Linked DNA regions of Homo sapiens: region 1 is linked to region 2. Evidence: fine-mapped QTL for protein levels in blood plasma. Region 2 holds a variant in brackets. A gene starts in the other region. All regions are shown on their reverse strands.

What was found. PIP is the chance, under the fine-mapping model, that this variant and not a neighbour inherited with it causes the effect. Protein levels are from antibody-based Olink assays in UK Biobank. Linkage for the fine-mapping came from a reference panel and not from the study's own genotypes, which makes the PIPs less certain.
Region 1: IL15 starts here. The variant in region 2 is fine-mapped to the plasma level of the IL15 protein (UK Biobank, PIP 0.96).

The regions. Positions count from the first base shown.
Region 1 is chr4:141,633,614-141,639,003 of GRCh38, reverse strand. IL15 (interleukin 15) reads right to left here and starts at 2,421. Exons shown (of 8, transcript NM_000585.5): 1 at 2,256-2,421. RefSeq lists an enhancer at 2,419-2,508.
Region 2 is chr8:127,198,466-127,203,855 of GRCh38, reverse strand. No RefSeq gene overlaps it. Among named protein-coding and RNA genes, the nearest start is that of CASC19, 3.5 kb to the right of the region's middle. The variant A/G (reference allele first, on the strand shown) is at 2,294.

The DNA of each region.
Region 1 (5,390 bases), not on the chromosome of region 2:
TGAAGACAGAACTCTGTATTATGATCAGCTAACCTTCAGAAAAATAGTTAACACAATGAGCAGAACTCAACATTAAACTCCAGGAGAGATGAGGGGAAAAGGACAGTAGTCTATATTTTCAAAAGATTTAAAACTCTTTTGGGTCAGAGACCCATTTAAAAAGCTGATCAAAGTTACGGATATTTTCCTGAGAAAAATCCACATGTACCCAGCATTTCAGGGCTGCTCTTCTAGCTGTCCTGAAATTCATCAGAGGCAGCAAATCTGAGATGGAGTATCCCGTAGGCTTTAAAACCTTCCACTTCCAAAATCTATTTCGATAAACCTTAAACCACTGTTTTCTCCATCCCCCAAGGAAATTTATAAACATTGTGCCTTGCAATATAGCTGTTGACATTGGCTACATTAATTTCATGGATTAAAACAAAAGAGCATCATTTTAATCACCAGTAGTCTGCAGGAAAATTCCAACCAGAACTATAGCTTCCAATCAGGTTCTGGAGTTGCCACTCCAAATCAGCAAGGAACAGTGAAACCAAAAGTATGGGAACACCCTGCCTATCAGAAGTTCCAGACCAATGGTCAACTGACCCTTCTCTGTCACTGTTGCAAAGCAGATGATACTGCAGGAGAGACTTTTCTGATTGACTAAAATTCTGTGAGAATTTTACACGAATAAGGACCCGAAACTAAGACAATCATAACAAACCTTAAGATCTCTATGATACTTGTTAACTTTAAGCAAAACTAGCTTTTTCTTCACTTTTTAAATCTAAATGGCTTTTGCTGTATTTTCAGTTCTTCTCTTTATATGTCTTTATGTTCCTTCCCATGTATTTCCTTGCTCTGTTGGCCACATTACTTCACACGAAAACAACAGGAGTTTAAAAATTTAACCTGTATTATATCTTTTTTATTCATTTATTTATTTTTTGACAGGCTGGAGTGCAGTGGCAGATCATATAGCTCACTATAAACTGGAACTCCTGGTCTCAAGCTATCCTCTCGCCTCGGCCTTCCAAAAGTGTATTGTATCTTGATGCTTTCAGTAGAATGGTTCACCTTATAACCTCTACATGGCAGGATGCATAATCACCAGTTTATTCTGTAATACCTGAGCAAAAATTCAGCCTAGCTAATATGGCCTCTTTCACCACACTGACAAGATAAGGATGACGTCCACTTAGTTGGCCACCACCAGTATCATAATATTAGATAGTAGTTTAAAAATATATAATGGAAACTAGCTGGTGACCACCACTTTACTTCCAGTTTTGAAATTGCTGACTCATCCTATTTAAGAATCTGTTGTAAGCATCATTTAAGAATTAGTTTGGTTTAGACATACTTTGAAGTCAACATAGTTTTTAATGCATGGAATTACATAAAGTCAAATGAACTATATACCCTTGCTACATGCGGTCTTAATAACACTTGAAAAAATTGGCTGGATTTTCATTTAAAAGCCACCTTGAATAATGATTTTATTTCAGTGAAATTCGCTCGTATTTTTTCCAAGTTCCTTCGACATTCTAGATACACTATCGCTTCTCTAAGAGATAACTGGCTGGCGCAGAGTTGGAACCAATACAGACCCAGGCCTGACTGCCAAGCACTGACCATTCCTGCAAATTTCTCTCCCAGAAGACGTGTGCAAGCAAAGAAGAGGGCGATAATTTGATTTTGCAAAGGTAGGGATAGACGCGCACGCACAGACATCTGCACCGGCCCACAATGAGTTTGGGACGGGAGCAGTTAGGAAGTGGGGAGCTGCGGTACCTTTTCTTGGCCTTCCTGAGCTTGACTGGGTGCAGAACTCAGCCCTCAGGGCTGCGGGACAGCGTCTTCTCAGAAACCCGCAGCTTGGCTGGGGCCGCCAGACGCGCGTCCCTCACCCTCCCAGCGGAGCGCGGGGTGCCCGGCCCGCCTTGCGCTAGCCAGCAGCCTGGAACGCCGTAAGAGCGCAGCGCAGTAGGGAGTCGCACGCCAGGGGCAAAGGGACCTGCGATCTGCGCTCCTCCGGAAGCGGGAGGATGGCTAGGAGAGCCTCAGAAGTGTCATTAAAGGAAAAACCAAAAATTGAAGTTGCGGCTAAGTTTTCCCCATGAGAAGGCGGGGCAGCTCGGCCAGTAGGATAGACCGGAGGGTAACGCTGGAGCTGGGAGGGGCCCTGGGCGTAGGCTTTCGGGGAAAATTCCATCGCCCTTTCAACCACCACCACTCCCCTCCCAAGGCAAAGAAGCCGAGCTCTGTACCTCCATCGAGTCCTGGCTGCAGGGTGGGGGGCGACAGCCACCGCAGCCGGGAGGGTGCGGCCACCCAGTTCCCTCCCGGGGGGCGCCGGACTTCGAAGGCAGTGAGCGAGTCAGCTGGGATTCCCCCGGGCGCCTGCCACCCGGAGTCCCAACCCCTGGCGAAAAGAAAAGTGAAAGAGAAAGAGCCGGGAGCATAGGCGAAGACAAACACCTCCCGCGGAGACTGGGGGTGGGGCGGGTGGCGGCGGCTCCTGGATGACTGACTGCCCCAGGTGTCACTGCTTCCCGGCCTGTTTCCGTCCCTGCCGGGGCCTGGGGCGCAGAACTTGCAGGGCAAGCGCAAGGACATCGAGGAGCCCCAGCCCCGCCCTGCAGGAACACCAGCCACCGGTCTCCTCCTCTACCTGCCGGGACACCTGCAGAGAAGGCACAAGGATAGCCGCATCCCAAGCGACGGGCACCATGTGGGAAGCTTCCGCAGCTGAACCTGGAGACCCGGGCTGGGCTGGCGCGCATCCAAGTCTTCCTGAGGAAAGGGAAAAGGATGTCGGATCTGGATGCTGGGCGGCTACTCTAGACCGGCCTCTTGGTCCCCGCACAGGCTGCAAGAAGGAAACTTTGAAGTCCAACTAGGGGAAATGTTGGAAGAAGACACCCGGGTGGCAGCTTTGTGCAAGACAGTTGGTACAGGGAGTGAACTTAGAGCAATGAGCCTCTCTGCGGATCACTTTTCCAGCCTATTGTGTAGTCCAGTGTAAAATATCACACATGGTCCCATTTGATGGAAGCGTGAGATGTTGTTCTTGTAGTATTTTTACATTGGAGGAAGGAACTGAGTTGAGGCTGAGTGATTTGCATGCCATAAAGGCAGTAGCAAAGATCTCACGCTTAGTTTTGAAAGTACTTTGCAGAATCTTGCACTCTTGTGAATCACTGAAAATCCCTCTTGTACGGTGCTTTCCAAATTTTCAGAGTCATGGTTCAGAGAAAATGATGTCTTCCTGGAGCGCAGTTTAATTTAGTTTAAAATTTAATTATGTTTTTAATTACATAAATATGATAAATATCAAATAGAAAAATAATAGAAATTATTCACTTTCCATGTACATAAAGTTCCGTATAATATAATTTCATATTTTTATGAAAAATTTGAGTTTATTTTCATTAACTCAATTTTTTGATATCAGTTTTATATTTGAAATAATTACTGATGGACTTTTTGATGAGAATTACATCAAACTCTAGATAGTCTCCATTAACAAAATAAGTGAGGTATAAAAATGCAAAAACAGTTTTTACAACCATTCAAAATTTCACCATAGTTGGAAATTATATTTAAGAATATGAAGCCATCATCCATTTCTGTTCATGACGATGTCATGTTGAATTTTCTTGTGATGGTGTCAATGGATTTCAAGACCAGTCAGAATTTTTCATAGCAATACATTGAAGCTCTGATTTGCAGAATGAGCATGCACTGGGAGAGCAAGACTGCAGCTGGTTTGGATCTCACCACAAGAATATAGCAGCCACGGAAGGACTGATATGCATATGTGTGAAGATAGAGAATAGGGATGAACAAGTGTATCATGTGTCCCAACCTCATTTTGGACTGTTGCAGAGCTTCCTGGACTCCTGCCATGTAAACTCCTCTAGCACCTCTTTCAGCTCCTTTAATGGATACTGTGTTCTCTGCAGCCGGTGAAGGAAGCAGGTGTCCACGCTCAGCACCACCTAGCAGAGCTCAATATCAGATATTGCTGCTGCCAGAGGACATATCATCACATCTCAGATCCTGTCTCTCTTGGACTGCCCACAAACTCTATAGAAAGTGCTCTCAGCTGGTGCTCACTAGCCTGTGGGCTTCAGCTTTGTTAGCTGTCTGCAGGACTCAGGGCCATCAGTATCTGACTGCATACTTTTAATATATTGAGACCACCAAGAACGTTCTGAGCTACTAGAGAGTTTTCACAACACTATGAAATTGACGGAAAGTTTACTTGTAGGGTGAACTTAAGGCATAATCTGAGTATATAACAGTAAGAAAATTGGTCTACAACTGTTTATTGGGTTTCAACTATAGTAGGTTCTAGAACAAGATGGACTAAATGATATATAAAGCATTTTGTCAGAGTAGGGAGATAAAAAACATAAATAACAGTAAAGTACAACTAAAAATTATTATAGTCATAAGATATGCTTTGCTCTACTATTTGCCTCCCAAATATGTTGGTCAAATTTGTTTTCATAAATACAGATGTTTTAAAAGTATTTTTAATTAGTTATGAGTGCCTGCAGTTCAATGAAGTTGGGTTTGCAACATAATTTGTTTTTGTTGCATTGCACTCAAAAAGAAAAGTCTAATGTATGCAACTTGTGTTTTCAGTTGCCACAGGCTGTTTGGCAAAATATTGAAAATTACTCATACCAATGAACAAGTAAATTCTGCTGCATAAATTAAAAGCAAAGATGAAGATTGATGAAATAATTTGAAACTGTCTTAAGATAACTAATAAAATTACAGGGTAGAAAGAAGTGGAGATTAACTAAATCTCATAGAAGTGACCATAATAATCTTCCTGAATTCAAATAATTAACAATAAAATTATAGTTTAATAAATTTTTAATATCTTTTTTCAAAAACAATGTCAATTGGGCAATCATCTTTAAAATAAATTACTAATAATTTATTTTCTAGCTTTTGTGATTACATGGAAGAAGTTACAAGTTATTTCATCTGATTTAGTGTTCAAAGTCCATGACTGTGGCCTTATTTATGGTTTTACTAAGATTTAAACCTCCCATCAAGAACAAGTTGATCCCCTGCTCTTTGGAAAACATGGCCTGCCTGGGTTCTCTACATTTCCATTCGGGGTAAAGCATGCTGAAATGCAGCATTACCTCGAAGTTGCTTCTCACATTTTTTTCTGGTGATCCTGACAATAGACAGATACTCTTGGCCTTAAATACTATTTAGGTTTTCAAGAGCTCCTCAAGTTGCTGCTTTTTCAGAACCACAACAGTATTAGTTAGGACTTCTGTAGTTCCTCCAATCTGCTATTTCTCCAGTGCTGTGCTAAACACAAATGTTAACTTATTAAATCCTCACAGCAAAGCTATGAGATATAAACTATT
Region 2 (5,390 bases):
CATATACACATGATACATACATATCATGTGCATGGTCCATATACACATGATACATACATATCATGTGCATGGTCCATATACACATGATACATACATATCATGTGCATGGTCCATATACACATGATACATACATATCATGTGCATGGTCCATATACACATGATACATACATATCATGTGCATGGTCCATATACACATGATACATACATATCATGTGCATGGTCCATATACACATGATACATACATATCATGTGCATGGTCCATATACACATGATACATACATATCATGTGCATGGTCCATATACACATGATACATACATATCATGTGCATGGTCCATATACACATGATACATACATATCATGTGCATGGTCCATATACATATGATACATACATATCATGTGCATGGTCCATATACATATGATACATACATATCATGTGCATGGTCCATATACATATGATACATACATATCATGTGCATGGTCCATATACATATGATACATATAATGTATACATAATATGTATATATTAATAACACATTTTTGTTATTAATTGGTAAGAGTTCTTAATGTATTCTGGGTATGAGTACTTTCTCAGATAGAAACATATACATATATTATGATAAAATTATTATTCCAGGCTGTGGCTTGCCTTTTCACTTCTTGTGTCCTGTTTAAGAAATATCTGCTATCCCAAGGTAAGATACTATACTTTTTTTAACATGTTATTTTGTTTTACCTTTCACATTTGGTGTATACTACATTTGTAATTAATTTGTCCATATTATATGACATATAGCCAAGATTTATTTTTTACCATACAGATACTCAATATTGCCATTTACGTAGAACATCGTTCTCTTCCTACTCAATTGCCTTGGCACCTTTGTAATAAATCAGATGATCGTGTATGTGTAGTTCAGTTTCTGGACTCTGTCTTCTGTTTCTTTAGTCTATTTGCCTATTCTTGTACCAATATGCACTGTGTTAATAATCGTAGCTTTGTAGTAGGTCTCGAAATCTGACAGTGTAATTCTTTTAGTTTCTTTCTTCTGCAAATTTTCTTTAGCTGTTTTACGTCCTTTGCATTTGTATATAAACTTCAGAATCAGCTTGTCTATTCCAAAAACAACAACAACAAATGAAAGTTTCAGAAACTTTAACTGAAATTGTATTGAATCTGTAGACAATTTTGGAGTAAATTGCATCTTAGCAATGTAGAGTCTTTCGAACCATAACCATGGTAAGTCTCTCCATTTGCTTAAATCTTCTTTAATTTATTTCAACAATGGCTTCCAATTTCCAGCGGGAGCTCTTGGAAACTACAATTTACATGAACTTCTAATTTGATATTTTTCGGTGTCATTATAAACATTGTTGTTTTAAAAGTTGTCTTCAATTTTTTGTTGTCAGGCACAGAAATACAATTATTGATAACATTTATATATAAACTGTATCCAGTGATCTTGCTAGATTCACTGATGAGTCTGATGTTGTAGATTCTTTGGGATTTTCTCCGTACATAATCATATCCTTTCTGAATAAGATAGTTTTACTTCTTCATTTTTAATATCTATGCCTTTTATTTATTTTTCTTTTGAACTTTTTGCTGACTTCATTATTCACTCTCATGTTTTTCTCTTTCATTAGACTATGACTCCTCGATGGTAGCAATTTGTAGTAATCAAATTTTTGTATTTTATTTTAGCATCTGGCATCTTTCTTGACATATGTAGCAGTTGCTTTTTGACAGCTTGCTTCTTCAGTGAATGAATAAATTAATAAAGAGAAATGTGATGTTCAGTGATCCATTTTGCAGGTAAGAAAACTGAGGCAGACAGAGGATGTTAGCAAGCAAGAGGCCTTGGCCTACAATTTAGATCACTGGACTCTTACTCCAGATGCAATCTGCAGAACCCACATACTTTTAATTAGTCCCTTTGTCTATGTTCTGCCACTGTCACTTCTAAGGAAGGTGTGTCATCCCAAATGGGGTAGTATCTTATTGGTAGACCTAAATCTGCTGTGTTCGCCATCTCACCTACATGAGTATCTATGTGTAGCATTCTGCATATTCATCTTTTCCACCTTCTGGAGGTTTTGTCTTTTTATAGGCAGCATGTGAATAACAATGGGGCCAAACTGGGGACCAGAAGGGGCCATTTTCTAGTTCTGAACATAGATAAGCATCACTAACTTTTCCCTCCTGGCAGTAATGGCCTCAAAAGTTCCAACTTAGGAGAAAAAGGCAAAACCGTCTGCCAAAGTGTGTGAAAAGTTAGAGCAAACCTTGGTTTT[A/G]CCAAGAACCTGTGTCCCTCTTATGGAAATTCACACTTTCACACTTTTAGACAAATATTAAATGTGTGACATTCTATTACGTACAGTGCCTGGCACATCTAGACACGCAGCACACTTTAGCCCCCTTCTTTCTTCTTCTAACTCCAAGTTCTAAACTAGAAAAAGCCCCACTTGAGTCTGAGATTTGCTTTTTGAACTAGTTTATTTCAGATTGTAATCATGCTATCTAGGGTTGTGACAGTGTTTGCTATTTCTAGGGCACTTTGACCTGATTCTTTTTGCACAGGAAACTTGTTCTACCCTTTTGCCCACTTCACTGAAGTGAGGACTGAGACAGAGAAGGATTAAGTCACTTTTTATTTAACAAATATTTGTTCCACATTCCTCAGCATTTATTAAATACTGGTGCATAATGATGGAATAAATTTTATACCGTAAGGATAAACCAGTATTCTGGACTAAGCCAACGTGGGAGACCCTAGGAGGCCTGTTTGAGAAAGTGACATTTAAATTGAGACTTGGCGGTGGCTGTGGCTACATATCTAGTAAGTGGCTGGGTTGGGATTTGAACTCATGCCTGCTTAGCTCTAAAGATGATGCTTTTGGCTTTGTACTCTGCTCTCTCTCTAGACAAACTCTGGTCCAAAATCGTTAAAGCTAACATTTATCCCTGCCCAACTGGAATTGTCATGTTATGACAAATGGCTCTGTGGTCTCAGATGCCCAGCAGACCCATTAGTGGAATTCTATGTGCTACAGACCTGGGCAAAATGCCAGAGCCTTATACACCCATCACATTTCGTCTGGCAAAGGTCTTCAACAAAGAGAAGTAATTACAGCAATGAAAAGCAACAGGTCCAGCAACACCATAAGAACAAAATAATTAATTTCCCTAAAATAGAAGAAACCATTTATAGAGTAAGAGCCGATACAATCAATAATTGGAAGAAATAGAAGAGGCTTTAGTATTCTAGCCTTCTTTATTTGTAGATGTAAATGTCGAGCCTCAGAGAAGTTATATATCTAATTAGTGTCACTCAGGTAGATAACAACAGAATTAGGATTAGAACTTAATTCTTATGACTCCCAGAGCAGGGAAAAGACAGGATGAAGTCCCAAAACATTGCGTGTGAACTCACATCTGACTCTGAATTGAGAGTCTGCTATTTACTCCCTATGTGACCAGAATCCTTCAGAGCCCATGAGATTCCCTGTCATAGAGTAGATTTTGATCCACACTAGGCATTTTTACCTCTTGCTCTTTGAGTTGGTGCCCCATGTTTACTCAGAAATATTCCAAAGGTGTTACATCTATTGGTTTTACATGTTGAGCACAGATCATTATAAGACAAATTGAAATGAAAACATCAACAAGTCTCATTCATTGTCTAACTTACGCTGAGCAATATTTAATAACTAGAATATCAAGAGAGTCCAAAGTGTTTGCCCATCCCCTCAAGACCAATGTAATGGAATTTTACTCTTATCACCTGCTCAGGGTAGTGGCAATTCAGGATACAGAGGACAGAAATAAAGAATCATGACACACAATCCACAGAATTCACAGATGCCAAACATCTACCCTTCTCTGTCACCACACATTGGACTCACATGGTGGAAATAGGCAACACAAGCAGAGAGGTGGCTTAACCTTTCATAATTTTTCAACGACCTATGGGAAGAGAGTTTTCTTGGTTCAAATCCCAGCTTAGCCACACAGAGTGTGGTAATATTGGGCAAGTCAACCAAGCTCTCTGTGCTTCAGTTTCCTCATTATTAAAATGGGGGAAATAATAGTGCCTGCATCAGAGGGTTGTTGTGAGAACTAAACGAAATAATTTATCTGAGCTTTAGAACCCACACCATATTAGTTAAAAATTCATGCATTTTCTTTTATTATATTTCTCTACCTTAGACTGCAAACTCTAAGAGGAAAGGCCGGACTGTTATATTCATAAAGCATTACAGGAACAGTAATTAGAACTAGGAGCTTTTCAATGGCCTGCCTGAAATCTGAAAAATAGGTATATTATTTGAAATTTTGAAAAAATCAAATAATTAAAAATTAATAGATGTTAATAAAATATCTGTAATATGTAATATCAAGGTCAACTCAACTCTTAATTGTTTATATAAAATATAGTGAAGTTTAAATTGCAAAATCTTACAGAAAATGTGCTATTAAAACTCAAAAGTATAATTCTTTCTAATATGTATATATATGTATATAGTTTTATTTTAAGTTCAGGGGCACATGTGCAAGTTTGTTACCTAGGGAAACTCACGTCACAGGACTTTGTTATACAGATACTTTCATCACCCAGGTATTAAGCCTAGTGCTCATTAGTTATTTTTCCTGATCCTCTCCCTCCTCCCAACCTCCACCCTCAGGTAGGCCTCAGTATCTCTTGTTCCCCTCTATGTGTTCATGAGTTCTTATCATTTAGCTCCCACTTACAAGTGAGAACATGTGGCATTTGGTTTTCTGTTCCTGCCTTAGTTTGCTAAGGAAAGCACTGTGGCAATTTCTCAAAGGACTAAAAACGGAATTACCATTCAACCCAGCAATCCCATTACTAGTTACGTACTCAAATATTTTTAAGGCAAAACAAAGCTGCAACCAGAACACCTGGACTCCCTGAAACCCCTTCCACTGATGTTGTTGTTGTTGTTTCTTTTTCCCCAGCTTCTCAGGCCAAAATACTGGATCATCTTGGGCACTGTTCTCTCCTGCCCACCCTTTCCCATATGCAGAGTGTTGTCACTTCTCTCTGCTTCCACTGCTAACTCCCTGGTCCAAGCCGCTGCACCACTTTTCGTGATTATTGCCACAGTCTCCTCACTGGTTCCCTGCCCCCACTCTTGCTCTGAACTATCCAGTTAAAACCTGAATTAGATCATCTCATCCTCATCTCAGAGCTTTCTCGTGGCTCCTCTGCCCTCTCAGGAAAAAATCTAAATTCTAGATGACCTAAAAATCCCTTGTCTCTTACTGTTTATCTGACCTCATTTACTACCACCTTTTTCTTTGATCATTCTGTTCCAGCCACACTGGCCTCCTTACCACTCCTCAAATATGCCAAGCACAGCCCCCACC